Linked DNA regions of Homo sapiens: all the other regions are linked to region 5. Evidence: fine-mapped expression QTL. A gene starts in region 5. Each other region holds a variant in brackets. All regions are shown on one strand. Distances are between the middles of the regions.

What was found. PIP is the estimated chance that this variant, and not a neighbour inherited with it, causes the effect.
Region 1: its variant is the best candidate, but not a certain one, in a credible set for the expression of LLGL2 in tibial artery (GTEx, PIP 0.62).
Region 2: its variant is the best candidate, but not a certain one, in a credible set for the expression of LLGL2 in whole blood (TOPMed, PIP 0.89).
Region 3: its variant is the best candidate, but not a certain one, in a credible set for the expression of LLGL2 in monocytes (BLUEPRINT, PIP 0.54).
Region 4: its variant is the best candidate, but not a certain one, in a credible set for the expression of LLGL2 in whole blood (INTERVAL, PIP 0.80).
Region 6: its variant is the best candidate, but not a certain one, in a credible set for the expression of LLGL2 in lymphoblastoid cells (GENCORD, PIP 0.63).
Region 7: its variant is the best candidate, but not a certain one, in a credible set for the expression of LLGL2 in monocytes after LPS (Quach 2016, PIP 0.74).

The regions. Positions count from the first base shown.
Region 1 is chr17:75,552,655-75,556,717 of GRCh38, forward strand. LLGL2 (LLGL scribble cell polarity complex component 2) reads left to right here. Exons shown (of 26, transcript NM_001031803.2): 3 at 3,392-3,489. Among named protein-coding and RNA genes, the nearest start is that of LLGL2, 29 kb to the left of the region's middle. RefSeq lists an enhancer at 1-355. The variant C/T (reference allele first, on the strand shown) is at 1,710.
Region 2 is chr17:75,563,679-75,567,741 of GRCh38, forward strand. It overlaps LLGL2 (LLGL scribble cell polarity complex component 2), which reads left to right. Exons shown (of 26, transcript NM_001031803.2): 9 at 74-128; 10 at 675-829. Among named protein-coding and RNA genes, the nearest start is that of MYO15B, 22 kb to the right of the region's middle. RefSeq lists an enhancer at 3,211-3,360. The variant A/G (reference allele first, on the strand shown) is at 1,731.
Region 3 is chr17:75,397,327-75,401,389 of GRCh38, forward strand. The region is part of intron 1 of GRB2 (growth factor receptor bound protein 2); the gene reads right to left. Among named protein-coding and RNA genes, the nearest start is that of GRB2, 6.3 kb to the right of the region's middle. The variant A/AT (reference allele first, on the strand shown) is at 2,356.
Region 4 is chr17:75,328,183-75,332,245 of GRCh38, forward strand. The region is part of intron 3 of GRB2 (growth factor receptor bound protein 2); the gene reads right to left. Among named protein-coding and RNA genes, the nearest start is that of SLC25A19, 41 kb to the left of the region's middle. The variant TCAAA/T (reference allele first, on the strand shown) is at 2,197.
Region 5 is chr17:75,523,822-75,527,884 of GRCh38, forward strand. It overlaps LLGL2 (LLGL scribble cell polarity complex component 2), which reads left to right and starts at 1,876. Exons shown (of 26, transcript NM_001031803.2): 1 at 1,876-2,004. TSEN54 (tRNA splicing endonuclease subunit 54) reads left to right here. Exons shown (of 11, transcript NM_207346.3): 11 at 441-914. The coding sequence ends at 591. RefSeq lists silencers at 1,242-1,341, 1,362-2,081, 1,398-1,582.
Region 6 is chr17:75,575,469-75,579,531 of GRCh38, forward strand. No RefSeq gene overlaps it. Among named protein-coding and RNA genes, the nearest start is that of MYO15B, 10 kb to the right of the region's middle. The variant G/C (reference allele first, on the strand shown) is at 1,544.
Region 7 is chr17:75,570,092-75,574,143 of GRCh38, forward strand. LLGL2 (LLGL scribble cell polarity complex component 2) reads left to right here. Exons shown (of 26, transcript NM_001031803.2): 15 at 1-164; 16 at 257-407; 17 at 859-1,009; 18 at 1,576-1,692; 19 at 1,807-1,973; 20 at 2,923-3,187; 21 at 3,390-3,540; 22 at 3,861-3,889. Among named protein-coding and RNA genes, the nearest start is that of MYO15B, 16 kb to the right of the region's middle. RefSeq lists enhancers at 1,039-1,168, 1,279-1,448. The variant C/CA (reference allele first, on the strand shown) is at 2,269.

The DNA of each region.
Region 1 (4,063 bases), 29 kb after region 5:
AGTACTAGATCTGTATTTAGAATTTGGATGATTTACAGTGGAAAAAGGGAATTCGAAGCGTGGCCTGCCTGAGTCCAGCCCCTGTTCTTCTAGAACCCGAGTTGTTCCAGACATACTTGAAGGGTTTCCAAGAACTGACTTAATCCTCATTGGTGACATGAGCCATACTGCAAGTGCTTGGTGGCCCCATGGGGCTCATGGCTACCGTTCTGGGCAGCTCGGAGCATGGGGCCTGCTCCTGGCCAGGCCATTGGGCTCCTGTAGGGCATTTCCACCAGAGTCCTCCAAATTCCAGAGGCTGTTCCCTGAGCTGCCTCTGCTGCTGGGAAAGTGCTGCTGTCCTGGGAGACGGCTCCGGCTGCTGACTTCCTGAGGCCCCAGCAACCTGGGGCTGGCTGAGGTCTGGTGGGGCCCCTGGGGGAGCTTGTCCTGCACATCCTATCCCACTGTCTACTCCCCTTTTCCTGGGAAATGTTTACATTCCAGACACTCAGCTATCTCTATCCAGGGCTTCTCCAGGCTCTGCATTTTTCGCATAGCTGAACAGGGACCTGGGCTGGCCTGGGGGCCGCTGCTGGGCCCTATCTGTCCCCCTGGCTATCCCATTTAGGTATGACCATTTGCAGGGCAGGCCCTGTTCCTAGCAAAGGCCAGGCCTGAGGCACCCCCCGTCTCCCCCGACCTTTTTGTCTCCAGGCATCCCCCAAAATAGGCACTTGTTGGAGCTCTCCTCCCTGCCTGACCCCAGCATGGGATTCCTTGTGAGAGCCATTGGACTAGACTGACTGATGGGGGAGGCAGGTAGCAATTGGGTTTGCTAAGCTATCATTGCTAGATCTCATCAGGGACTTCTCCTTTTCTGCTGCTTTGAGGCCTGGCAGGGCTGCAAAGTAGGAAAGCCCAGGGCCTAAGGAGGCTGCCTCATTGTTGGGACCTTTTTCTGCAAGTCAGAGTCTCTGTGGTTGTTTTTTAAGTCTTTAAAGCAATCAGTTGACATAGCATCGCTTTGTGCTGTTCTCACCTAGCTCTGCAGGGTCACTATCCCCCGGGGTGGGAGGCGGGGGTCAGATTGGGGTAACTGATTAAGAAACTGAACTAAAAACCTTCCTGAAGATGGTTTATCACTCTAAATTTGTAGTGGGTTTATGTTCATACCTTTCTTAACCCACAATTCTATCCCTGGGACATCTGCCCCAGGAAATACTCAAGTGGTGCAGACAAAGATAGGAGTCCAAGAATGCCATCGACATGGTTGTTGGATTGCAAACCCTCTAGCAACAAAGTAAATACTCAACAATAAACCTCTGGTGAATTAGGATATCTACAGGTAAAGAATATTCTTTAGATGTTTTAAAAGTCATTTTAGGCCGGGTATGATGGCTCACACCTGTAATCCCAACACTTTGAGAGGCCAAGGCGGGCAGATCACTTGAGGTCAAGAGTTCAAGACCAGCCTGGCCAACATGGTGAAAGCCCATCTCTACTGAAAATACAAAAATTAGCTGGGCATGGTGGTGGGTGCCTGTAATCCTAGCTCCTGGGGAGACTGAGGCAGGAGAATCACTTGAACCTGGGAGGCAGAGTTTGCAGCGAGCCAAGATCGCACCATTGCACTCCAGGCTGGGTGACAAGAGCAAAACTCCGTCTCAAAAAAAAAAAAAAAAAAGCCATTTTAGGCAGCTTGCAGTGACTCACGCCTGTAATCCCAG[C/T]GCTTTGGGAGGCCGAGGCAGGAGGATCGCTTGAGTCTAGAAGGTTAAGACCAGGCTGGACAACATGACGAGTACCTGTCTCTACCAAAAATTAAAAAGTAGCCGGGTGTGGCAGGTGTGGTGGTGCATGCCTGTAGTCCCAGCTACTTGGGAGGCTGAGGTGGAAGGATCACTTGAGCCTGGGAGGCCAAGGCTACAGTGAACCGAAATCATGCCGTAGCACCCAGCCTGGGCAACAGAGTGAGACCCTCAAAAAAGAAAAATTAAAAATTTTTGTCATGCCTGTAATCCCAGCACTTTGGGAGGCCAAGATGGGCGGATCGAGACCATCCTGGCTAACACAGTGAAACCCCGTCTCTACTAAAAATACAAAAAATTAGCCGGGCGTGGTGGCGGGCGCCTGTAGTCCCAGCTACTTGGGAGGCTTAGGCAGGAGAATGGCGTGAACCTGGGAGGCGGAGCTTATAGTGAGCTGAGATCACACCACTGCACTCCAGCCTGGGCGACAGCGCAAGACTCCGTCTCAAAAAAAAAAAAAAATTTTTGGCTGGGTGCGGGTGGCTCACGCTTGTAATCCTAGCACTTTGGGAGGCTGAGGTGGACAGATCATGAGGTCAGGAGATAGAGACACGGTGAAACCTGTCTCTACTAAAAATACAAAAAATTAGCCAGGCATGGTGGTGGGCACCTGTAGTACCAGCTACTCGGAAGGCTGAGGCAGGAGAATGGCATGAACCCGGGAGGCGGAGCTTGCAGTGAGCCGAGATCGCACCACTGCACTCCAGCCTGGGCAACAGAGCGAGATTCCATCTCAAAAAAAAAAAAAATAGACCTGCAAACATTCACAAGTGCAGAAGACTCGAAGGATGTACACTTAGGTTCTAGCAAGGTTACTTCTGGTTGTGGGAGTTTGGGTAATTTTTGTTCTTTTTTTTTTTTTTTTTGAGACGGAGTCTCGCTCTGTCGCCCAGGCTGCTCTGCCTGCCGGGTTCGCACCATTCTCCTGCCTCAGCCTCAGTTTTTGTTCTTAAACATCTTTATACCTCCCAGGTTTTTCACAGTGTGTGTGTGTATTCTGTAATAAATGAAAAAAACACGTATGTGCAACGACACTCCAGGAATTCCCTTTCTGGGAAGATGGTTGGAATTTGGTGACAGTAAGAGTCTGTGAGACCCAGCTGACTGGGGCCTGGAGGGACCTGGAAGAGCCCAGAGCAGGGCAGGGCCTCCGCGGTACTCTAGGCCCCTGGGTGAGCCCGGAGCTGCGGTGCAACCAAGATTTTCTCCCGAGAGACCGGTGTCTCCATTGTTCCAAACTCCCCCTACTTTCCCCACCCCACACCCATAAGGCCCCCATGCCACTGAGGAGGGCTGGGTCCGTCACCCAGGGTGCACGTGGTGGAGGCACCGAGTCAGTTCCTGGAAAGCATTGAGAGGCTGGTATGGTGTCGGGGAAGATCAGCTCGCAGGGGTGGCCATGAGGCCAAGGGCAGAGTCACAAAGGGACAGGGGGTGGGGCCTGGTAAATATGGGTTAGGCTCCAACACTCAGGTGTCTGGGAGGAACCGGAAAGGTACCGAAGCCCTGCTTCCTGCTGGGTCGTCTGGTGCTGCAGCTGCAGCAGCCATGGTGGCGCGAAGGGGACAGGTCTGCAGGCCCACCCCACGTGCTTCTCGTTGCAGACGGTGGAGCATGGCTTCCCGCACCAGCCCAGCGCCCTCGGCTACAGCCCGTCCCTGCGCATCCTGGCCATCGGCACCCGTTCTGGAGCCATCAAGCTGTATCCTCCGTCCCCTCGCTCCCACTCGGGCAGGGCCTTGGGGTGGGTGAGATTTGGGGAGGGACATCTTTTCCTTCCTTGCCCGTGGGCTGTTGGGATAAAATGAGGGACTTTCCTGATTTCCAGTTTTGGACATGATTTTATTCCAAAATGGGGCAGGTATGGTTGATGGTGGAGCAGGCACCTGGGCATGAGTGCATCCCTGGTGGGATGCGACCCTGTCCTTTGCAGGAGGACAGTGAGGTTTGAAATGGACTGAGGAGATACAGGCTTATTTTGTCTCCTGTGTCCTTTCAGGACCCTTCATGTGGTCTGCTCCCTTTACTCAGTTTCCCCTCTCACCTATTCCTGGAGGTTTCAGGAATCCCCCAGTCCCGGGCAGGGGGTGAGGCTGCTGGGGGGCTCAGAGACCTGTTTTGCAGGGGTTGTATTGGTGGATCCAGAGGGAAGGACCTGACGCCCATGTCTCAGCCAGTGATCATTCAGTGAGTGGCTGGCTGGTGCGCCAGTAGCAAGGCCTAGGCCCTTCTGTGCCCCTGCCTCCCTCAGCTCCCCACCTCACCACCAGAAAAGC
Region 2 (4,063 bases), 40 kb after region 5:
GATCTGTGCCTGTGGGGACTGACACTTGTCTGAGAGTTTGAGGATCCGTTCAAGCCGATTCCTTTCCTTTCAGGTCCCTTTCCTTGCAAAGCGATTACCAGAATCCTCTGGCTGACCACTAGGCAGGGGTAGGTATCCATGCTGGTCCTCTTTCCTCTCCAGAGCCTTCCTGGAGGGCTAGAAAGGTCACTTAGGCCTCTGCCTGGGAAGTTGGTGCCAGTGAACACTCTCAGGTCCCGTGTTGGGGTCTTGGACACCAGGGAGGGGAGACAGGGTAGACGCTATTCACGTCTCTCAGCGGCCCAATTCCTGCCAAGTTCATTCTTGCTCCTTTCTTCCACCTTCCCAGAGAGACGGTACTGAGCAGCAGGTCTTAAACTCCTTTAGTTGGCAGCCCTGTTTCTTCAGACAAAATCACTCTGGGTGATGTTCAAACAGAATTGGTGGGGGCACCCAGCATGAGGCAGGAGTGGCTGCTGAGACTCAGAGCCCCCAGCCTGGATGCCCTCACCTTACCTCCAAGTCCTCCTGGGCTGTAGCAGTTGGAAGGAGATGGGGTCCAGTCTCCCCTGCTCCTGGGGACCTTGACTGAGTGGTGACTTTGATTGCCGGCCTGTGGCTGTTGAGGCTGTGCCAGGAGCCCCAGCCCACTGCCGCTCCTCTGTGCCTGCCAGGTTGCCCTTCACCATCTTCCAGGGTGGCATGCCACGGGCCAGCTACGGGGACCGCCACTGCATCTCAGTGATCCACGATGGCCAGCAGACGGCCTTCGACTTCACCTCCCGTGTCATCGGCTTCACTGTCCTCACAGAGGCAGACCCTGCAGCCAGTAGGAGAGCTTCGGGAGTGGGTGCCCAGGGTTAGGTGTGGGAGGCATGGGGCAGGACCATCAGTAAAGACAGGGCCAGGTGCAGTGGCTCCTGCCTGTAACCCCAGTGCTGTGGGAGGCCAAGGTGGTAGGATCGCTTGAACCCAGGAGTTCAAGTCCAGCCTGGACAACGTAGGGAGACCCTTGTCTCTACAAAAAATAAAAAAATTAGCCAGGTGTTGTGGCACGTACCTGTAGTCCTAGCTACTCAGGAGGCTGAGGTGGGAGGATCACTTGAGCCTGGGAGGTGGAGGTTGCAGCGAACCAGGATCATGCTACTGTACTCAGCCTGGGTGACATAGCCAGACTGTGTCTCAAAAAAAAAAAAAAAAAGGGCTCTGCACAGATGTTCCTAAGCCTACCACTGTCCTGAGTCCCTTAGCCTCACTGCACCCCAAGGTGCAGTGTCATCAAGCCCTACAGCTCCTTTCTCTGCCTCCCTGCCACCCTCCCCAGCTAGAGACCCAGCCCAGCCACACCTCCTGTCTGCCCCGGGCTCTCTGCCCTTTCCAGACTGTAATGGGACTTAGCCCACAGGGGGCTGATCTGTACTGTTGGATTTAACACCCACCCCGCTGAGGCAAGAGGGTCCTGGCTTAGAGATGGCAAAGCCCGCCTTCTGGGCAGGGCAGAAGGTGGCTGTGCAGCCTCCTGGAGCTCCAGCAGGACCGGCAGAGCCCTGAGTCAGCCTCGTAAATTGTGTGACAGGCAAGACCAGAAAGGGCTGATGTTGAAACCTGGAGAGGAGCCCTGCAGGAGCTCTCCAGGAGGGAGGGCCCTCTCCTAATGATGCTGGCCTGAAAGGGCCTGAGGCCGAAAGGTGAGGGGGCGGGGCTGTTCAGGACACCTGGTCTGTGTACTC[A/G]CGGCCTCTATCTACCCTGTTCAGGGGAACCCCAAACCTGCTTTTCTTTCTTTCTCAGCCTCTCCTCCCTCCTCACACCCTGGATGCTGAGAGCAGGGCCCAGCTCTGCTCTTTCCACAACATTTGGGCCATGTTGGCACAGAGCGGGGGCCTCTTGGGCTATGGTGGCCACACTCCCCGGGCTAACTGAGTTACCTGATTCCCAGCGGAAAGGTCAGGAAGGGAGGGAAGAAACTTGCTGAGCTACAAATTCGAGACTGCTGGGGCTTTCTAGGACAGGCCACCTTCCTGCAATTGTCCCTCTGTGTCCCCAACTCCCCGCAGTCCCGCAGGCCAGGAGGTGGGTGCCTGATGAGCGGTGCTTCCCTCAGATGATATGTGGGCACCCTGAAGCTCTCACGTAATGGTTCTGCTGTGCCGGGTTGTGACCCAGCTGTCCTTGGTAGGCTCTCCTGTTTAATGAGCAACTGCTATATGCCAGGCCCTGTTCTAGAAACAGATGAGGCCCCTGTTCCCATGGAACTTAGATCTGAGTATGTGGACAGAGTGAGTAGGTTGCCAGATAATGTCAGAGGTAAGAAAAAAGCCAGGCAGAGGACAGCAGTGCTGGTTTAGACAAGGGTTGGCAAGGCCTCCCTGATAAGGGGACGTATTTGCGCAGACACGGAAGCAGTCTGATGGAAGGCTTGCCCTGTAGGGACCTGGGGTGCAGACTGAGCTGGGAGGGCTCTTGGCTTGCTCCAATGAGGTAGGGGCGAAGAGAGGGCAGAATGGCCCCCGTGCTGGTCCAGATGTGGCCAGCGCCAGATCGTATAGAGCCGTGGAGGCACGGTAAGGACTTGGGGTTTGAGGGAGATGAGGGCCCTGAGCAGGGGTGCCATGATCTAGCCTCTGCTCCAGAAGGATCTGTCTGGCTGCCATGTGGGGGACACGGAGTGGAGCAAAGACGGGAGCCCAGTGAGAGTCGAGGGAGAGGTGACCTCAGCTTGGGCTGCGGTGCAGGCCATGGGACTGGCAGGAGGTGGCTGGGGTTACGCTGTCTTTTCTAACATTCAGCATTGGCTCAGGGGCCAGGTCAGGGCTCACAGACTGTTGCTATAAAGGGCTGGGTGGCTTTCTTCCCCACAGCTACTCAGCCTAATGCCATTGCAGAGCACATGTAGCCATGGACAACACAAGGGGCGTATCCGTGTTCCAGGACAGCCATATTGACAGGAATAGGCAGGAGGCCAGATTTGGTCCTCAGGCTGTAATTTCTTGGCCCCTTGTCTAGGGAGAGGTAAACGAGGGGAGGAGAGATCAGTCAAGGATGACGTGAGGGTTTGCTGGGAGCACCAGGAATCCTGGAGAAGGTAGTGGCAAGAGGGTGCAGCAAGCTCAGCTGGGCGGGGATCAAGTCTGAGGACTTAATGTCTCCTCTGATCTCCAGACCCATAAGGGAGATGCTGAGTAGACAACTGGGGCTTATGGGTCTGGAGTTCAGAGGAGAGATCGGGAAGGTGTCCATTTGGAGTCATCCACGCAGAGATGTGTGAAGGCTGCTCAATGATTTTGAGGTTTAAAGAAAAAAAGAGATGTGAAACCAGGGGCCCTGATGAGGCTGCCCAGGTGGTAAGGAAGACAGAAGAGAAGCCATGGGACAGCTGAGCCCGGGCACCCTCAAGCCTTGGAGGCATGAAGTTTGGTGGGGATCTGGCAAAGAACACCTGGGAGCAGCCAGCGGGCAGCAGACCCCAGAGTAGCAGGGAAGACAAGCACTTCAAAGAGGCAGCGTCAGCCAGGGGCAGTGGCTCAGCTGTAATCCTAGCACTTTGGGAGGCCAAGGATGGCAGATCACCTGAGGTTAGGGGTTCGAGACTAGCCTGGCCAACATGGTGAAACCCTGTCTCTACTAAAAATAAAAAATTAGCCAGGCATTGGTGGTATGTGCCTGTAATCCCAGCTACTCGAGAGGCTGAGGCAGGAGAATCTCTTGAACCCGGGAGGCAGAGGTTGCAGTGAGCCGAGATCATGCCATTGCACTCCAGCCTGGGCAACAAGAGCGAAACTCCGTCTCAAAAAATAAAAAAGAAAAACAAAAATTAGCCAGGCGTGGTGGTGAGTGCCTGTAATCCCAGCTACTTGGGAAGCTGAGGCAGGAGAATCGCTTGAACCCGGGAGGCGGAGGTTGCAGTGAGCTGAGATCGCACCACTACACTCCAGCCTGGGTGACAGAGCAAGACTCCATCTCAAAAAAAAAAGAGAAAAAAAAGACTGGGCACAGTGGCTCATGCCTGTAATCCCAGCATTTTGGGAGGCCAAGGTGGGAAGATCACTTGAGCCCAGGAGTTCAA
Region 3 (4,063 bases), 130 kb before region 5:
ACAGAGTAGATGTTGCTGTTCACTTCCCAAGAAAATGGGGTATAGTGTACTTAACACTGAAGCCTAATGAGAGTAACCTCGAAACTGTTACCAGCCCATCCCAAGCAGTGAATTTTAAGAAAGGTAAGTACAGCTTTAATCATTCATTTCAAACAATGTCTACTGTATCCAAAAAAACTACTATCCTAAAGGTATTTGCAAGATTTTTTTTCTTTCTTCCATTTAACTCTCTTCTTCCCAAAATTCACAGAAAATAAAATACATGACAACAGTCCAGTATAGCTTAGTGTTGAATCTTCATGGTCTCTAGAGGCAGGCCCCTCACACTTACAGCTACAGTTGTGGGCAAAGTTGTGAAACAAGCTCCAGTTTTCTCATCTGTAAAATGAGAATATCTACCTTATAAGATCCACTGAGGATTAAATTAGACAACATATATAACATACATTAAGTGCTCTGGATAGAGCCCGACATGTAATAATCACTCAAAATTTATTTATTTATTTATTTATTTATTTATTTATTTATTTTTTGAGACAGCATCTAGCTCTGTCGCCCAGGCTGGACTGCAGTGTCACGATCTCAGGTCACTGCAACCTCCGCCTCCTAGGATCAAGCAATTCTCCTGCCTCGACCTCCCAAGTAGCTGGGACTACAGGTGCGCGCCACCAAGCCTGGCTAACTTTTGCATTTTTAGTAGAGATGGGGTTTCGCCATGTTGGCCAGGCTGGTCTCAAACTCCCACCTCAGCCTCCCAAAGTGCTGGGATTACAGGCATGAGCCACTGCACCCAGCCTTCAAAAGAAATTTTAAATGTTACTCTATTTAAAACATATGAAAAGAAATGCAAATTAAAACAATCAGAGTTTTCATATACTAATTGGCAAATTTTAAAAATATTTATAAAATCCAATCTGCAATACTTTGAGTAAACACACTTTTATTTATTTATTTATTTTTCAGAAAGGGTCTCACTCTGTAGCAAAGGCTGGAGGGCAGTGGCGTGATCTTGGTTTACTGCAACCTCCGCCTCCTGGGCTCAAGGGATCCTCTCACCTCAGCCTCCTTAGTGGGGACTACAGGCACCAGCCACCATAGCCTACTCATTTTTTTTTGTAGAGATGGGGTCTCCCTATGCTGCCCAGGCTGGTCTCAAACTCCTAAGCTCAACAGATCTGCCTGCCTTGGCCTCCCAAAGTGCTGGGATTACAGGTATGAGCCACCGCACCAGGCACAAAGACTTTTTACCCTACCCGGTGTCCACTGACTCAACATTTTGAGAAGTTACTAACTGACAATGTGGCTTGGTGTTACATTATAATAATAAAATCACCACAGAACCCACACTACAGCAAGGAATTAATGAGCTCAGCTCAATCTTTTTGGTGAGTTCTTTGGTAATCTATTGACAACTTTTATTTATTTTTATTTATTTTTTGGAGACAGAGTCTTGCTCTATCCCTCAGGCTGGAGTGCAGTGGCGTGATCTCCGCTCACTGCAACCTCCACCTCCTGGGTTCAAGCGATTCTCCTGCCTCAGCCTCCCAAGTAGCTGGGATTACAGGTGCCTGTAACCATGACCAGCTGATTTTTCTATTTTTAATAGAGACAGGATTTCGCCATGTTGCCCAGGATGGTCTTGAACTCCCGACCTCAGGTGATCCGCCCACTTTGCCCTCCCAAAGTGCTGGGATTACAGGCGTGAGCCACTGCGCCCAGCCTATTTACTTTTATTATTTGAGACAGAGTCTCGCTCTATTGCCCAGGCTGAAGTGCAGTGGAGCAATCATGGTTCACTTCAGCCTCAAACTCCTTGGCTCAAGCCATCCTCCTGCCTTAGCCTCCCAAGTAGCTGGGACTACAGGTGCACACCACCATGCCTGGCTAATTTTTGTGTGTGTGTGTGTGTGGTGACCAGGACTCACCATGTTGCCCAAGCTGATCTCAAACTCCTGGACTCACGTGATCCTCCCCATCTCAGCCTTTCCAAGTGCTGGGATTACAGGGGTGAGCCACCACACCTGGCCTTGACAATCTTTTCTTTTTTTTTTTTTTTTTTGAGATGGAGTCTCGCTTTGTCACCCAGGCTGGAATGCAGTGGCACGATCTTGGCTCACCACAACCTCTGTCTCCTGGATTCAAGCCATTCTCCTGCCTCAGCCTCCCAAGTAGCTGGGATTACATGCCCCCACCACCACGACTGACTAACTTTTGTATTTTTAGTAGAGGCAGGGTTTCACCATGTTGGTCAGGCTGGTCTTGAACTCCTGACCTCGTGATCCACCCGCCTTGGCCTCCCAAAGTGCTGGGATTACAGGCCGTGAGCCACCGCGCCCGACCAACAATTATTTATTT[A/AT]TTTTTTTGAGACAGAGTCTCGCTCTGTCGCCCAGGCTGGTGTAGTGACGCAATCTTGGCTCGCTGCAAGCTCCGTCTCCCAGGTTCATGCCATTCTCCTGCCTCAGCCTCCCGAGTGGCTGGGACTATAGGTGCCCACCACCACACCCGGCTTATTTTTTTGTATTTTTAGTAGAGACATGGTTTCACCATGTTAGCCAGGATGGTCTCGATCTCCTGACCTCGTGATCCGCCTGCCTCAGCCTCCCAAAGTGCTGGGATTACAGGCATGAGCCACCGTGCCCGGCCCTGACCGACAATTTTGAAATATTAATACATACTCTTTTTTTTTTTGAGACAGGGTCTTGCTCTGTCACCCAGTCTGGAGTGCAGTGGGTGCCATCTTGGCTCACTGCAGCCTTGACCTCCCAGGCTCAGGCCATCCTCCCGCCTCAGCTTCCCAAGTAGCTGGGACTACAGGTGTGTGCCACCACACCTGGCTAATTTTTGTAAATACATACTCCTTTTTTTGAGATGGAGTCTTGCTCTGTCACCCAGGCTGAAGTGCAATGGCACGATCTCAGCTCACTGCAATCTCCGCCTCCTGAGTTCCAGCAATTCCCCTGCCTCAGCCTCCCAAGTAACTGGGACTATAGGCGTGCACCACCATGCCTGGCTAATTTTTGTACTGTTAGTAGAGATGGGCTTTCACTAGGTTGGCCAGGCTGGTCTCAAACTCCTGACTTCAGGCAATCCACCAGCCTTGGCCTCCCAAAGTGCTGGGATTACATGCATACCACCATACCCAGCCTCATGCTCCTTTTTTCTTTCTGAGACAGAGTCTCGCTCTGTTGCCCAGGCTGGAATGCAGTGGTGTGATCTCATCTCACTGTAACCTCCACCTCCTGCGTTCAAGCGATTCTCCTTGCCTCAGCCTCCCAAGTAGCTGGGATTCCAGGCGTGTCACCACCACCTAATTTTTGAATTTTCTTTTTTTGTGTGTTTGTGTGTGTTTTTAATGTTTGTATTTTCAAATAAAGACGAGGTTTCACCATGTTGGCCAGGCTGGTCTCCAACCTCAAGTGATCCGCCCACCTCGGCCTCCCAAAGTTCCAGGGTGACAGGCGTGAGCTACTGTGCCTGACCAATACATACTCTTGACCAAGCAATTCCACTTCCCAGATTTATCTCACTGAAACAATGAGACAAAATACAATGTGCAACATACACATATACACCCACACCCTTGATCAATATCCATGAGCTTGTGTATGGAGTATCTACATAAATACCAGGATATATCAATTTTTTTTTTTTTTTGAGACGGAGTCTTGCTCTGTCGCCCAGGCTAGAGTGCAGTGGTATGATCTCTGCTCAAAGCAACCTCCACCTCCCGGGTTCAAGCCATTCTCCTCAAATTTTTAAAGCTGCAGAAAAATTATAGTTTATCCTATTTCTGTAAGGCAAAATAATACATCAGTATGTGCTTAAAAAAAAAGGCTAGGCCGGGCGCAGTGGCTCACGCCTGTAATCCCAGCACTTTGGGAGGCCGAGGCGGGTGGATCACGAGGTCAGGAGATCGAGACCATCCTGGCTAACAAGGTGAAACCCCGTCTCTACTAAAAATACAAAAAATTAGCCGGGCGCGGTGGCGGGCGCCTGTAGTCCCAGCTACTCGGGAGGCTGAGGCAGGAGAATGGCGTGAACCCGGGAAGCGGAGCTTGCAGTG
Region 4 (4,063 bases), 200 kb before region 5:
GCACAGTGGTGGGCACCTGTAATCCCAGCTACTCGGGAGGCTGAGGCAGGAGAATCACTTGAACCTGGGAGGCAGAGGTTGTAGTGAGCCGAGACTGTGCCACCGCACTCCAGCCTGGGCGAAAGAGTGAGACTCTGTCTCAAAAAAATATATAAATAAATAAAATAAAAAAGGAGGCTGGGTGCGGTGGCTCAATGCCTGTAATCGCAGCACTTTGGGAGGCCGAGGTGGGCGGATCATCTGAGGTCAGGAGTTCGAGACCAGCCTGGCCAACATGGAGAAACTCCATCTCTACTAAAAATACAAAATTAGCAAGGCGCGGTGGCGCATGCCTGTAATCCCAGCTACTCGGGAGGCTGAGGCAGGAGAATCGCTTGAATCTCCGGGAGGCAGAGGTTGCGGTGAGCCGAGATCGTGCCATTGCACTCCAGCCTGGGCAACAAGAGTGAAACTCCATCTCAAAAAAATTAAATAGGCCGGGTGTGGTGGCTCACGCCTGTAATCCCAGCACTTTGGGAGGCCGAGGCGGGCGGGTCACAAAGTCAGGAGATCGAGACCAACCTGGCTAACACGGTGAAACCCTGTCTTTACTAAAAATACAAAAAATTAGCCAGGCGTGGTGGCAGGTGCCTGTAGTCCCAGTTACTCAGGAGGCTGAGGCAGGAGAATGGAGTGAACCTGGGAGGCGGAGCTTGCAGTGAGCCGAGATCGCGCCACTGCACTCTAGCCTGGGCGACAAAGCGAGACTCGCTTTCAAAAAATAAATAAATAAATAAATAAATAAATAAATAAGGACACTTAACGGTATTGAGACCTTCTCAATCGGGGGGCCCCAATCAACGGTATTTAAACCTTCTCATATCGGGGGGCCCTGGGTTTCTAATATAAGTGTATGCAGCATGCATCTGACTGGGTACAGCAGTGAAAATCCACACATGGCCTCGGCTGGCTCTCCCCACACTGCCCCACACTCCCCACCACTGCCACTTCCAATAGCAATGGTGAGGGTGAAGATTCTCAATCAGCAAGGCTCTCTTTCCTCCTAGGCCCCCAAGATCTCTCCACTAGGGAGGTTTTTTCCCATTTGTAGGTATAAAATAATGAATATAAACTGAAATAGCCTAGATGTACATGAAGCAAACATAAAAAGTAAGATGCTTCCCTCAAACTCCCCAGAGGCAGCACGTGTTGGCGGTTCTAACACTTAGGTTTCCAGACCTTTCTGTCTGGTGTCACATAGACATGGCTGCTGTGTTTTCTTGCCCCCAGCTTAAAATTAACGCAATTTTATTTTCAATTAAAAAAAATAAATTGTAGTGAAGTACAAATTATAATGTTTAAAAAGTACTCTAACTGGAATTAAAACCAAAAACCAAAAAAACCACAACTCTGTTATAAGCACCCAGATCAAGAAATAAAAAATCTGGCACCAGGTGCAGTTGCTCACGCCTGTTAATTCCAGCACTTTGGGAGGCTAAGGTGGGAGGATTGCTTAAGCCCAGTAGATCAAGACCAGCCCGGGCAACACAGTGAGACCCTGTCTCTACGAAAAATAAAAAATTAGCCAGGCATAGTGGTGCACAGCTGTAGACGCAGCAACTTAGGAGACTAAGGTGGGAGGATAACTTGAGCCCAACCTGGATGACAGAGCAAGACCCTGTGAATAGCTGTCACTACTAAAACACTGAAATACCACCATTCTACATTTCTATAGCATTTTATATCATTTATAAATTTGACTTTTTAAAATGATGATATGTACATGTGACTACATGCTTACGGGTGAATTTTTTTTATTTTTTATTTTTTGAGACAGAGTCTTGCTTTGTTGAATAGGCTGGAGTGCAGTGGCGTGATCTTGGCTTGCTGCAAGCTCTAACAGGCAAATGTTTTGAAAGTCTTTAAAAAGATGGGCTTTGGGCCGGGTGTGGTGGCTCACACCTGTAATCCCAGCACTTTGGGAGGCCGAGGCGGGCGGATCAGGAGGTCAGGAGATTGAGACCATCCTGACCAACACAGTGAAACCCCATCTCTACTAAAAATACAAAAATTAGCCAGGCATGGTGGCACATGCCTGTAATCCCAGCTACTCAGGAGGTGGAGGCAGGAGAATCCCTTGAACCAGGGAGTTGGGGGTTGCAGTGAGCCGAGATCGCGCCACAGCACTCTAGCCTGGCGACAGAGCGAGACTCCATC[TCAAA/T]CAAACAAACAAACAAACAAACAAAAGATGGGCTTTGGCAGGGTGCGGTGGCTTACACCTGTAATCCCAGCACTTTAGGCCAAGAGCTCGAGATCAGCTTGGCCAACACAGTGAAACCCCATCTCTACTAAAAATACAACAATTCGACGGGAGTGGAGGCACGCGCCTGTAGTCCCAGCTACTCGGCAGGCTGAGGCACAAGAATCGCTTGAACCCAGCAGGCGGAGGTTGCAGTGAGCTGAGATAGCACCACTGCACTCCAGCCTGGGCAACAGAGCAGGATTCCGTCTCATAAAAACAACAAGAACAACAACAAACAAAAAACAAAAAAAAAAAAGGTGGGCTTATACAACAGAAATAGCAAGGGCGAGAGCTAAGGGGGTGAGGGGAGAAGGCTAATTTTCCAATATAATTCTTTACTACATCCCGTAGGCTCCCATCCATATGCATTTAGTGTGAAAAGCACATATTTGGATCCACCCCTCAAGCATATACAACTCATGCTGCAGCACTAATGCCAACAATCATTTTGTAGTCTAATTTGTTAACTTGAATGCTGCATTAGCTGACATGGTGCTACATTTTATGCTTCCCTCTTCCTCCATAACCCCTGCTCCCCACCCCCACAAACAAACAAACAAACAAACAAAAAAACAGGAGGTGGTAGGATGTGGAGGAGAAGGCCTGGTACTGACCCTGACCCTATACTCATGAACATCCAGCCACAGAGCAGCCCTATACAACAGCAACTACGTCTGCAAGGCCAAACACCTACATAGGCACAAGCATGGTCTTTGTTAGCAATATGGTAGACCTGAATAAATAAGGGTTTTTAAGTTGCTAGTTGCCTTTTCAGAGCTCAGAGTGGCTGAGCACTGCCCACCCTTTGGGCAGAGTCTGCAAATAACAACACAGCTGAGCCTGTGCTGGGTGCTTCTCCATCAATTCTTCTAAAGTTCTTCATAGTGGGGACAAAAGGTCAAGGCAAGGGAGTGACTGTCCCAGTCAGCCTGGCAGTAACTACAACTTTCCAAGGAAGGTAGCCTTTCCTATCTTTCCTCAACAGTCAGATTTAAATGCCTGTGTCACCCGAAACACTGAAGAAAAATAAGAATTTCGAGCCACAGGCATGTCATATAAGAAGTGTAGTATGATGTTCTGTTGAATTCCCTTTCAATCTGAAAATATGAAAACAAAAGGGAACTGAAGTCGATGTTGTGTTTGGATCTAATGAAGGAGCCAGCAAACAATAATGGCCTTCTGCCCAAATCTGCCCACAACCTAAGACTGTTTTTTAAATTTCTACTCGATTGTTAAAAGAAAATTTTTACAAGGAATATTTGACAGGATTGTATGCAGCCCACAAAGTCGAAATTACTTGCTATCTGGCTCTTCACAGAAAAAGTTTAGCCAACCCTTGACCTACAGTTTCTTTTGAGGACGACTGAAGGAAACAGAAGTACACAAATTATGTGGCTTATATGGGACCTGGGGAGGATGTGCTGTGATCCAACAGGCCCCTCCCACTCAAGATGCGACAAGCCACCTGAAAGTCTCCGCCACCAGCTGCTGTGAAAGCAAGTGGACAATGTCCAAGGGCATTCTAGTCTGAGCGTGGAAAGCCTCAGCTCCCCTGACACACTTGTAAGGCAAGCCAGCAACTGCTTCTGTGCTAGGAGCAGGGCCTGTGAATGAGGGGTGGGTGAGAACGGGAGGACAGTGGTCTGCAGGGGCTCTCAGGGGTCCACTATGTTGCGTTATTAATAAAATCGTGACAAGGGTAGCTTCTGAAAAAAAATTAAAAATATTCACTGCTCCCAGCAGCCTGGAGGACAGCATATTTTGTTCTCTTGTAAGTAGGAA
Region 5 (4,063 bases):
GTTCTCCTGTGAACCAAGTGGGACTCCTCTGTACTCCCCTGGCCAGCGTGCCAATCTCTGAGAGGAACAGGAGGTCCAGAGAGGCTAAGTGACCTACACAAGGCCACACAGCCAGTTTGTGCTGCCCTACTCTGAGCTCCTCGTTGCTGGCATTTTAGGGTAGTCTTTCTCCAATGCCATTTTAGTCTAGGACTCACCCAGCAGAAGGGATGTGGATTGTGGGGATTTACAGGCTAAGAGTGGTGAGCACCTTGCTCTTCCTAGCACCTCCCCAACCAGTGCTCTGGGGCGCTCTTCATCAGAGCCCTGTGTTTTGGAGACAGAACTCATGGGTCAGAATTCTTGCACCCCAACTCCTTCCGTAGAATCTCTTCTCTGGGAGCCCTAGAGCTTAGGAGTGGGCTATGGCTGGGTCTCACTCTAACCCTTTGTCCCTGCAGATTTGATGAGCCTGTCCCAGACCTCTGCAGCCTCAAGCGGTTGTCTTACCAGAGTGGGGATGTCCCTCTGATCTTTGCCCTGGTGGATCATGGTGACATCTCCTTCTACAGCTTCAGGGACTTCACGTTGCCCCAGGATGTGGGGCACTGACCTCACAGCTCTGCAGAGGATGGAGCTTGCTCCGGGGGACCGGGACTGTCTGTTCTCAGGGACCATCTCGGCTGCCTCCTGTACCCAGACTCTAACCTGTAGCTTCAGAGGCCAGTCTGGGCCTTGGCCCTGGGTGTCTGATACTCACAGAGTGAAACTGTGACCCTCTCCCTTCCCTGCTGCCTTGCAGTGACCCCTCTGGAACTCAGGACTCGATTTTAAGGACCCAGGAGGTGGGGCAGAAGAGAGGACTGTGTGCCTTTAACGAGAGGGTGCCTGCTTCGTGCTATAAAGCCAAAGCCATTAAAAATAGATTTCTTTTCTGCTGTTTCTGTATGTACTGGGTAAACCCCTCTCGCCCCCGTCCCGTTGTCAGTGGAACTGCCCCCAGCCCCTCACCCCTGCTTTGCCCACTCAAGGAGATCCGCTTCCTCTGGTGCGGGATCTAAGAGTGAGAGAAGCCCGCGGGATAGCAGGAACGCGACCTCGAACCTTTTGAGCCTTTCCCGGGCCTGCGTCGGAGGGGATGGGACGTCGCAGGCTTCCCGAAGGGAGGAGGGAGGACGGCGCGCCATCGGCCCTTCCCTGGGCGCAGCGGGGTGCGGGTGGCGAGAGGCGCCACCTGCAGCTGGGCGGTGGAGCGCGCTGCAGCCCCGGCCTCCGCGCCCTTTCCGCTCCCGCCTCTCGTCGCTCCAACCTCCTCCCTCGCTTGTGCTAAAAATTCCACCCGCTGTTGCAGACCCTCCGGCCGACACGGAGGAGGTGGGCGCCCCCCCGCACCCCCCCCCGAGGAAAGGCGTCTCGCCGCGACGCCCCGGTCCCTACACCATCCCTCTCGTGGGGCTGGAAACCCGGCCCTGCGTCCCCCGGTCACCCTCTCTGGGCTGGGCTCTGGCAGAGGAGCTGGCCCGGATCCGCCCCTCCCTCGGCAGCTCCCGGGAGTTGGAGGGACGGCTCCCCTGGAGTCTGGGAGGCGGCCCGGGACCGCAGGCGTTCCGGGAACTATTTCCGCTTGCGGGAGGCGGCGGGACACTGGGCGCGGCGCGCCGTTCTGCGTCCAGGTGCGCGCAGGTGAGGCCGGGGCGGGCCTGCGGAACCCCGAGGCCGTTCGCGAGGCCCCGCCCCGCGCTTCCCGGGGCCGCGGATTGGCAGGAGCGCAGCCCCCACCCCCGAGGGTGCCCCCGCCCCTGCGGCGCCGAGCTGGGGGGCGGGCCGGGGGCGGGGCGCTGGGCCCCGGCAGGCTCGCCCTTTATGTAAATAGCGCGGCTCCGCCCCAGGCTCGCCGCGCCGGAGGTGAGCAGGAAGGAGACGGCCGCCCAGCAGCCCGTGGGCAGGCGCGGCGGAGCGAGCGGGGCCGGCGGCGGGCGCCGAGGGACGCCGAGGCCTCGGGCGGGGGCTGGCCCGGGGTTCCAGGTGAGATGCGTGCCGGACTCGCCCAGCCGGGCCCGCCCCCTCGGGGCTTCCACCTGGGGCGGGGAGGCCAGGGAGGCCCAGGACCCCTGGGCTGTCGGGCCAGGGCGGGAGGGCTGCGCCCAGGTCCGCGCGCCTCGCCCCTGTCCGCGTCGCTGTGCTGGCCTGGAAGAGAGACACCTGTAGAAAGTTCTGCGGGAAACTTCTCTGCCTGATCTGCGCGATGACTGAAACTTGGGCTTGGGTTTGCACAATAATGTTGGCTTAGGAGAGCAGGAGAACAGGTGCCCCGGCCGGCTGGGTGCGGGGGGCACCGCGGGCAGAGACGGAGTCCCCGGGCCCACGTGCAGGCGCCAGGCCAGCGGGGTTGGCGACGCGCGTCTGCGGTGACCCCCTCCCCACGGGCGGCGGCCGGAGCGCGGTGCCCCGGCGGCTTAGCCCCTGCCCCTGCCATCTGGGCTGTGTCCCTGCCGGCCCTTTGTGCCTCCTAATCCCCGGACGCAGGAAGCCCGCGGGAGGGACTTCGGTCTCCGGCCTTTCTCCAGCTGGGGCGGCTTTGGACACCTTCACATGACAGTGCGGAGACCCAGTCTGCCCTCCATGCTGACGGGCGGGGTTTGCGCTGTGGGATTTGGCGAGAAGTGGAAAATTCTATCTTGCCAAAGAAAGTGTGTCTTAGTTTGTTCCGGCTGGACGATTGGTGGACACGCTGGGCCTTGGCTGTGGGGAGAACTGACCTAACCAGGGGAGCTGTAGAGTGGCGCTTTGAGGCTCTCACCTGAACAGGTGAGCTTTGAGTGAGGAGGGCGCCCCTTCCCCTGGGGATCCGTATGCGACTGCCGGCAGCCTTAACCTGGGCTCCAGGGACCCCCTGCTGGAGTTTGTAGTTCAAGAGAACCTTGAGTTCTCTTGAAGGGGCTACAGAGAGGATTCTGAGCAGGGAGCGGGCAGGGAGGGAATGGGTGTGTCAAGGTGACAAGGAAACGCTGGTAGGAAGAGCAGAGCTGCCACAGAAGAGCTGTGGCCCAGCCCGGGGGAAGCCAAGGTCAGAAGTGGCAGTTGAGGCTGGGTGCATTGGCTCACAGCTGTAATCCCAGCACTTTGGGAAGCCAAGGCAGGAGGATCGCCTGAGCCCAGGAGTTTGAGACCAGCCTGGGCAACATAGTGAGACCTCGTCTCTGCAAATAATAAAAAAAGTTAGCCAGGCATGGTGGCGTGCACCTGTAGTCCCAGCTACTCAGGAGCCTGAGGTGGGAGGATTGCCTGAGCCCAGGAGGTGGAGGTTGCAGTGAGTCATGATGGCGCCACCACACTCCAGCCTGGGGACAGAGTGAGACCCTGTCTCAAAAAAAAAAAAAAAAAGTGGCATTTGAGGAAAACTGTCTGGGTCTGTGTGAGCAGAGGCACAAGGAGAACTGTGCGAGAGATGTCTCAGCTTTATTTTATGAACTGGGATTTGGGGTTTAGTTTTCTTAGGCGATCTTCCCACAGTGCTAGCTGTGGCAGACAGAACTCAAACTCAGCTCTTAAGCTTCTAATCAGAGTTCACTCCTTTCCTCTGAAGTTAGACTGGGCCCATCTTTGTGGGGGCTCCTGGACAGGGTTTCCGGGGTCCAGGGTCATTTGGCATCCCCATTCTTCCTTGAGGCAAGGGAGTTTCCCCTTTGGTGTCAGATTAATATGCTTTTAATTATATTAAAATGACACTACATTCATAAATAAGAAATAAAATAGAAAAAAGTAACTTTTTTCTCTTTTTTTTTCTTTTTTTTAAACTAAGTTGACCAAATTCTTTTTTTCTTTAATAATATGTTTTTTAATTTGTAGAGATGGGATCTCACCATATGTTGCCCAGGCTGGTCTCAAACTCCTGGACTCAAGTGACCCTCACACTTCAGCCTCCCAAAGCGTTGGGATTACAGGTGTAAGCCACTGTGCCCAGCTGTTAGTAACTTTTTTTTTTTCTTTTTTTGAGGCAGAGTCTTGCTCTGTCACCCAGGCTGGAGTGCAGTGGTGCAATCACTGGGAGATGGAGGCTCACTGCAGACTCGACCTCCCAGGC
Region 6 (4,063 bases), 52 kb after region 5:
TGGCCTTTCCCTACTGTCAGAAGAAGGACACCCACAATATCTCAGACCTGATGGCTTCCTCCAGACACCAGGGAGGACTGTGGGGTGCTGCTGAAGCGGGGCTGGTACCCAAGGAGAAAGGCCTTCCCCAGGGGAGGGGCTGGGTTATTTAGATTGGACATGGGCTGGATCTTTATTGACTCGTCTTCGTTGAGCACCTACTGTATGGCCAGTGCGTGGGGTTCTCCGGTGTCTGAGACAACTGTGGTTCCTGCCACAGTTGACACTGGTGAGAAATGCACCTGGGGGGTGACCTGAGAGAGAACCAGGAATTGCCAGAGAGTGTGGTAAGCAAGCAGATTGTTCCAGACAGAGGACAAGAGGGCTCACCGCCACTCCAGGAACTCGCTTGCCGTGGGAGGCAGTGGAGAGCGGAAGGTGGCTGGCAGGCAGGGCCGAAAGTGAGGCCAGACTAGGGAGGCCCAGTGAGGGCCAGGTGTGACAGGCGCCTGCTCTGCGTGAGCGAGGAAAGGCCCATCCAGAGGAGCTGGGTACAGGTGTTCCATCTGGCCATGTCCACCTCGAGATGGCCACTTGACCGTCCCTTGTTTCCCCAGGGGAGGGTGCAGAAAGACTTCTGAGATGAGCACCTCGAGAACTATGAGGAATGTAGGGGAGCAGTTCCCCAAAGGGAGAGGAACACCATGCTAGAAGAAGCAGGGAAGGGATGATGCCTGGCAGAGACCAGCCACAGGGGTGGGGGATACCTGGTGAGACACCTGTATCAGTCCCTTCCCATACTGCCATAAAGAACATATGCCATAAAGGTGGCTGGGCGCAGTGGCTCACGCCTGTAATCCCAACACTTTGGGAGGCTGAGGTGGGGCAGATTACTTGAAGTCAGGAGTTCAAAACGAGCCTGGTCAACATGGTGAAACCCTGTCTCTACTAAAAATGCAAAAATTAGCTGGGCGTGGTGGCGCGCGCCTGTAGTCCCAGCACTTTGGGAGGCCAAGGCAGACAGATCACTGGAGGTCAGGAGTTCGAGACCAGCCTGGCCAACATGGTCAAACCCTGTTTCTTCTAAAAATACAAAAATTAGCCGGGCGTGGTGGCGGGCATCTGTAACCCCAGCTACTCAGGAGGCTGAGGTGGGAGAATCACAAACCTGGGAGGCAGAGGTTGCAGTGAGCCAAGATCGCACCACTGCACTCCAGACCGGGCAACAGAACGGGACTCCATCTCAAAAAAAAAAAAGATAATGGTGATGATGCAAGTACCAGTGAATCAGAAAAAAACGGCAGAACCTGCACTTCTGTGGCACAGAGGAGCCTGGTGGCCACAGCACAGGTCTTGCTGATGAAATTGAACAAGAAGTCGAAAACACACAGCCCTGAAAATATCAGGAAGACTCCGAACATGAACTTATTTCCTTGCTGATTAGTGCTGAACTTTGAGCTTTGCTGTAAGTATGCTGTGCTTTGAAGTATTAGCTAATGTCGGTGTGCATATTTCAGTTTAAGGAAACATTCTCGGCCGGGCACGGTGGCTCACGCCTGTAATC[G/C]CAGCACTTTGGGAGGCCAAGGCGGGCGGATCACGAAGTCAGGAGATCGAGACCATCCTGGCTAACATGGTGAAACCCCATCTCTACTAAAAATACAAAAAATTAGCCAGGCATAGTGGCGGGCGCCTGTAGTCCCAGCTACTCAGGAGGCTGAGGCAGGACAGTGGGGTGAACCCAGGAGGCAGAGCTTGCAGTGAGCCGAGATCATGCCACCCCACTCCAGCCTGGGCGACAGAGTGAGACTCTGTCTCAAAAAAAAAAAAAAAAAAAGAAAAATATTCCCACTGGGAGTGTGAGATGAACAACAATTTGTATTGATGGGTGTGCAAGATGGAAGGACGTGGCATCTTCCTCTCTAGAAAGTGAACTGGAGGGGCCGGGAGCGGTGGCTCATGCCTGTAATCCCAGCACTTTGGGAGGCCGAGACAGGCGGATCACAAGGTCAGGAGATCAAGACTAGCCTGGACAACATGGTGAAACCCCGTCTCTACTAAAAATACAAAAATTAGCTAGGTGTGGTGGCGTGTGCCTGTAATTCCAGCCACTCGGGAGGCTGAGGCAGGAGAATCTCTTGAATCCGGGAGGCGGAGGCTGCAGTGAGCCGAGATCATGCCACTCCATTCCAGCCTGGGGACAGAGCAAGACTCCGTCTCAAAAAAAAAAAAAAAATGAACTGGAGGAAGCTGGGATCCCCACAGCCATCCAGGGCAAGGCGACGGTGGTAGGGAAATAGAGGCATTGAGGGGTTGGGTTGACAAGGATGGCTGCCAGATGGGAGGAGATGAGTGAGCGTGAGGGCTACCTGTTGCCTCCAAGGGCCAGGGAGGTATACAGCAGGCAACTGGATTTGTGGTCAGGAGATTTATTTTATTTGTTTTTTAGAGACAGGGTGTCACTCTGTCACCTAGACTGGAGTACAGTGGCATGAGATCATGGCTCACTGCAACCTTGACCTCCGAGGCTCAAGCAATCCTCCAGCCTCAGTCATCCAAAGTGCTAGGATTACAGTCATAAGCCACTGAGCCTGGCCACGGAAATTGATTTATTTTAGAGACAGAGTCTTGCTCTGTTGCCCAGGCTGGAGTGCAGTGGTGTGATCATAGCTCACTGTAGCCTGAACTCTTGGGTTGGAGCAAACTTGTAGCTGGGACCACAGGTGGGCGCCACCATGCTCAGCTAATTATTATTTTTTTTCAAGACAGCCTCATTCTGTCGCCCAGGCCAGAGTGCAGTGGCATGATCTCGGCACACTGCAATCACCGCCTCCTAGGTTCAAGCAATTCTCCTGCCTCAGCCTCCCGAGTAGCTAGGATTACAGGCGTTAGCCACCACGCCCAGCTCATTTTTGTATTTTTAGTAGAGACAGGGTTTCACCATGTTGGCCAAGCTGGACTCAAACTCCTGACCTTGTGATCCGCCTGCCTCGGCCTCCCAAAGTGCTGGGATTACAGGCGTGAGCCACCGCGCCTGTCCTACTTTTTTATTTTTAAATTTTTTGTAGAGACAGGGACTCCCTATATTGCCCCAGGCTGGTCTCAAACTCCTGGTCTCAAAGGATACTCCTGCCTCAGCCTCCCAAAGTGCTGGGATCATAGGCATGAGCTGCCACACCCTGCCAGTCTGCAGATTGAGATGTGAGGGTCTTGGGCATTCAAAGTGGTGGAGACCTGGTGTTCATTTAGCATTTGAGGCCAGGCAGATCCAACCCTGTACACTGGCTTTCACGTGACTGGCTGTGTGACCTTGGGTACATGACCTCACTCCCATACCTTGGTTTACTTATCTGTAAAGTGAAGGATAATAATAGGACTTACCTCAGAGGGTTGTAAAGGATTAAATGAGAGCCTGTAAAATCACACAGCACCTGATTCCTAGTAAACACCCAACCCTAGGAGGTGAAAGTTACTGTGGATGGTGGGTGAGGCCAGGAGAGAAGGAGATGGCTCCAGAGGGAGGGAGTGTGGAAGGAAGTCCAGAGAGGGCGCGGCACACAGCCCCAGGGAGGAGCTCACTATACACTGGTGAGCGAAGCAGGCAAAGGAAGTCAGTGGGAAAGTGGGAAGCAGAGGGGAGAGCCAGGCTCGGGGGTGTGGCCTGTCTCCCTGCATGTCAAGATTAGCCAAGCTGTTCCCTGAAGGTTGTTCAAGGTCATAGAGCCAGGAGGGTGGAGCACTGCAGCTGGGATGGGGGACCAAGGCTGTCTGGTTCCAAAGCTGATTCCAGCAGAAGCGCTGCGGAGCTCCACAGTGTGGGTTCAGCAGAAAAGTGGGTATTAAAGGCCAGAGGGCCTGGGCTTGGTCCTCAAGTCCATATTTAGTGGTTATGTGTCCTTAAGCTACTGGGTTTTTTTTTTTAGACAGTCTCGCTCTGTCGCCCAGGCTGGAGTGCAGTGGCAGTGATTTTGGCTCCCTGCCACCTACGTCTCCCGGGTTCAAGCGATTCTCCTGCCTCAGCCTTCTGAGTAGCTGGGACTACAGGTGCATGCCACCATGCCTAGCTAATTTTTGTATTTTTAGTAGA
Region 7 (4,052 bases), 46 kb after region 5:
GTGCGCTTTGAGCCTGGCTTTCAGCCCTTCGTGTTGGTGCAGTGTCAGCCCCCGGCTGTGGTCACCTCCTTGGCCCTGCACTCTGAGTGGCGGCTCGTGGCCTTCGGCACCAGCCATGGCTTTGGCCTCTTTGACCACCAGCAGCGGCGGCAGGTCTTTGTTAAGTGAGCAGGGGCGGCTGGGTCCCGGGGCTGGGAGTGGGGCCCGCGAGGACTCCCAGGACCTAGCAGCACTGACAGCCTGCCATCCCCCCAAGGTGCACACTGCACCCCAGTGACCAGCTGGCCTTGGAGGGCCCACTCTCCCGCGTCAAGTCCCTCAAGAAGTCCTTGCGTCAGTCATTCCGCCGGATGCGTCGGAGCCGGGTGTCCAGCCGGAAGCGGCACCCGGCTGGCCCCCCAGGAGAGGTGAGGCCTGAGGTGAGGCTGCGGCCGGCCACGCACCCAGGTTCGGCTCAGAGCAGCCAGCAGGGGGGCCACACGGCCCCTGCTCCCCAGGCTTGCTAGGCTACAAACAAGATTCAGGGTCCAGGTCGCATTGTGTGACCTCAGACAGGTCACGCTGCTTCTCTCTGCCTCAGCTTCCTGAGCAGAAAGGCAGTAACTGTAATGCTTATCCTAGAAGTAATCCCCAGTAAACGTTAGTGATTTCCTTTTTCTCTCTACAACATGCTGGGGGCCCAGGCAGGCTCCCCCAAGGGCACCTCCCTCTTGGACAAGGGTCCCTCTAGACGCAGGCCTGGCAGGTGGCTGGCATGGCTGTGGCCTGCCTTCCGATGCAAGGATCAGCACTGAGCGAAGCACTGTTCCTGGGGAGGGGAGTCCAGAGCTGACCCTTAGGCTGGCCCACCCCTTGCAGGCACAGGAGGGGAGTGCCAAGGCTGAGCGGCCAGGCCTCCAGAACATGGAGCTGGCGCCTGTGCAGCGCAAGATCGAGGCTCGCTCGGCAGAGGACTCCTTCACAGGCTTCGTCCGGACCCTGTACTTTGCTGACACCTACCTGAAGGACAGTGAGTGGCCAGCCTGGGGTTGGGGGGCAGGGGGTAGTGGGCAGCAGACACCCCCTGACCTGGGGGCATGCCGGGGGCTGCTGCCTGCCTGGCTGGTAGGAGCTAAGAGGTTTCCCCTTGTGAGCAGGGGCAGACTGCAGCCCCTGCCTGCTTACTCCCCTCCCCTGCCTCAGCCTCTGAGTCAGCTTCCCTTGGCTTTATATCCAGGCCGTAGCACCCTTTAGAAGCATGGCCTCAGACCCATCACTTAGCCTTTCAGGGCCTCAGCTTGCTTCTCTGTAAATGAGGAAGTGACAGCTTCCTCCTAGAGCAGCTGTGACGATCGGGGACAGCAGAGCCTGCTGGTCTCCAGATGACGTGTCTCTCCCTGGCTGGTTCTCCCCTGCTGTATCACAGCAAGGGCTGAGCTGACCTGGGATTGGGGTCTTCTATGTTGGGGCCTGTGTGGTTGTCAGAGAGCCTTCCAGCCTCTCCCAGGAGGGAAAACCTGGGAGTAAACCCTGGTTGCCCAGCTCCACCCGACTCCCACGCTAAGGGTCAGACACCCAAACATGGCTTCTCGGCAGGCTCCCGGCACTGCCCCTCGCTGTGGGCTGGCACCAATGGGGGCACCATCTATGCCTTCTCCCTGCGTGTGCCTCCCGCCGAGCGGAGAATGGATGAGCCTGTGCGGGCAGAGCAGGGTGAGTGCTGGGCAGGGAGAGCAGAGGGTGCTCGGGCTGCCTGGGCTGGGTCCAGGGAGTGGCTCCAGCCCTGCCACCCCCTCACCAGCCCCAACACCCACCTCCTCCCCCTAGCCAAGGAGATCCAGCTGATGCACCGGGCGCCGGTGGTGGGCATCCTGGTGCTCGACGGACACAGCGTACCCCTTCCCGAGCCCCTCGAAGTGGCCCATGATCTGTCGAAGAGCCCTGACATGCAGGGAAGCCACCAGCTGCTCGTCGTATCAGAGGAGCAGTTCAAGGTGCCACACGGGCAGCGGCGGGTCTCCCTGGGACTCCCCGGGACATCCAGGAGGCTCGGACCTTGGGCAAAAATGATGGCTGGGACTCAGTCTTGTTTGCAGTTGGTGTCTGAGGGGCTGCAGAAGTACAGGAAATAAGTGAGGGGGGAGTCTCGTGTGAGGACACTGAGGCAGGACAGGGGGCCAGGCGCGGTGACTCATGCCTGTAATGCCAGCACTTTGGGAGGCCAGATCACAAGGGCAGGAGTTCGAGATCAGCCTGGCCAATATGGTGAAACCCTGACTACTAAAAATA[C/CA]AAAAAAAAATAGCCCGGCATGGGCCAGGCGCGGTGGCTCATGCCTGTAATCCCAGCACTTTGGGAGGCCGAGGCGGGCAGATCACAAGGTCAGGAGATCGAGACCATCCTGGCTAACACGGTGAAACCCCGTCTCTACAAACAAATGCAAAAAAATTAGTTAGGCGTGGTGGCGGGCACCTGTAGTCCCAGCTACTCAGGAGGCTGAGGCAGGAGAATGGCGTGAACCCAGGAGGCGGAGCTTGCAGTGAGCCGAGATTGTGCCACTGCCCTCCAGCCTGGGCGACAGAGCGAGATTCCGTCTCAAAAAAAAAAAAAAAAACCAGCATGGTGGTGGACGCCTGTAATCCCAGCTCTACTCGGGAGGCTGAGGCAGAAGAATTGCCTGAGGCGGAGGTTGCAGTGAGCCGAGATCACACCACTGTACTCCAGCCTGGGCGACAGAGCAAGACTCCATCTCGGAGGAAAAAAAAAAAAATCCAGATAGGGAAGTCGGTGACCTCGGCATCCTCCCAGGCCATGTCTGTGCATCTGAGAGCCAAGGGTTTGTCAGGACACCGGGAGGCATGTGGGGAGGGGAGGGCCCAGCAGCAGCAGCACAGGGCAGGAGAACTGGTTTGGCCATGGGCATGAACAACCACCCCACGCCCCCAGGTGTTCACGCTGCCCAAGGTGAGTGCCAAGCTGAAGTTGAAGCTGACGGCCCTGGAGGGCTCAAGAGTGCGGCGGGTCAGCGTGGCCCACTTCGGCAGTCGTCGAGCCGAGGACTACGGGGAGCACCACCTGGCAGTCCTTACCAACCTGGGCGACATCCAGGTGGTCTCGCTGCCCCTGCTCAAGCCCCAGGTGCGCTACAGCTGCATCCGCCGGGAGGACGTCAGTGGCATCGCCTCCTGCGTCTTCACCAAATATGGCCAAGGTGTTTGAGCCGGGCTGGGTGGGTGTCGGGGCCCCGGGCACTGCACGGACGGGAAGGGTGGCCAGGGGTGTTGTGGCCACGGCCAGACTGGATGGGCCTTAAGCGGAGAACTGCGAGGGAGCACTAGCCCCTACTCCCCCAGGTGGGGAGGCAGCCTTGGCAGCCGCCAGGCCAGGCCGCTAGCATTGCCCCCACTCCCCAGGCTTCTACCTGATCTCACCCTCGGAGTTTGAGCGCTTCTCTCTCTCCACCAAGTGGCTGGTGGAGCCCCGGTGTCTGGTGGATTCAGCAGAAACCAAGAACCACCGCCCTGGTAACGGTGCGGGCCCCAAGAAGGCCCCGAGCCGAGCCAGGTGAGTGAAAGGGCCAGAGGCCTCTCCCGCCCCTCCCGCCCCTCCCTGCCCTCTCTGAGATACCGAGGCTCCCACTGCTGCCTGGCTGGAGGCACCTCCCCACGAGCTCAGCCCACCCTCCCAGGCTCCGGCTCTCCTTGCCTCTTTGCGTGCCCCTTGCCCCTGTGCAAGCTGGCAGTCCAGGGCAGGACTCAGTTTACCTCCCAGGCTCTCCGGCTCAGGACAGGCTGCGCCATTGACTTGTTCTTCATGGGACCAGGGCTCTCAGAGCCGGGCAGGGAGCCCGGGGGCCCTGGTCCTCACTGTCTCTTCCCCCACAGGAACTCAGGGACTCAGAGTGATGGCGAGGGTAAGACAGGCCTCCTGGGCTCATGCACACCTGGGCCACACCCGGCCCAGACCTGGGGCTGGACGGGAGGGAAGGGTCCCGAGTGAGCAGGTAGTGTTTGGGCTGGGAATAGAGACGGCATTCCTTCCAGCCCTGGGCCCTGGGCTTCCACATCCTGACCTCA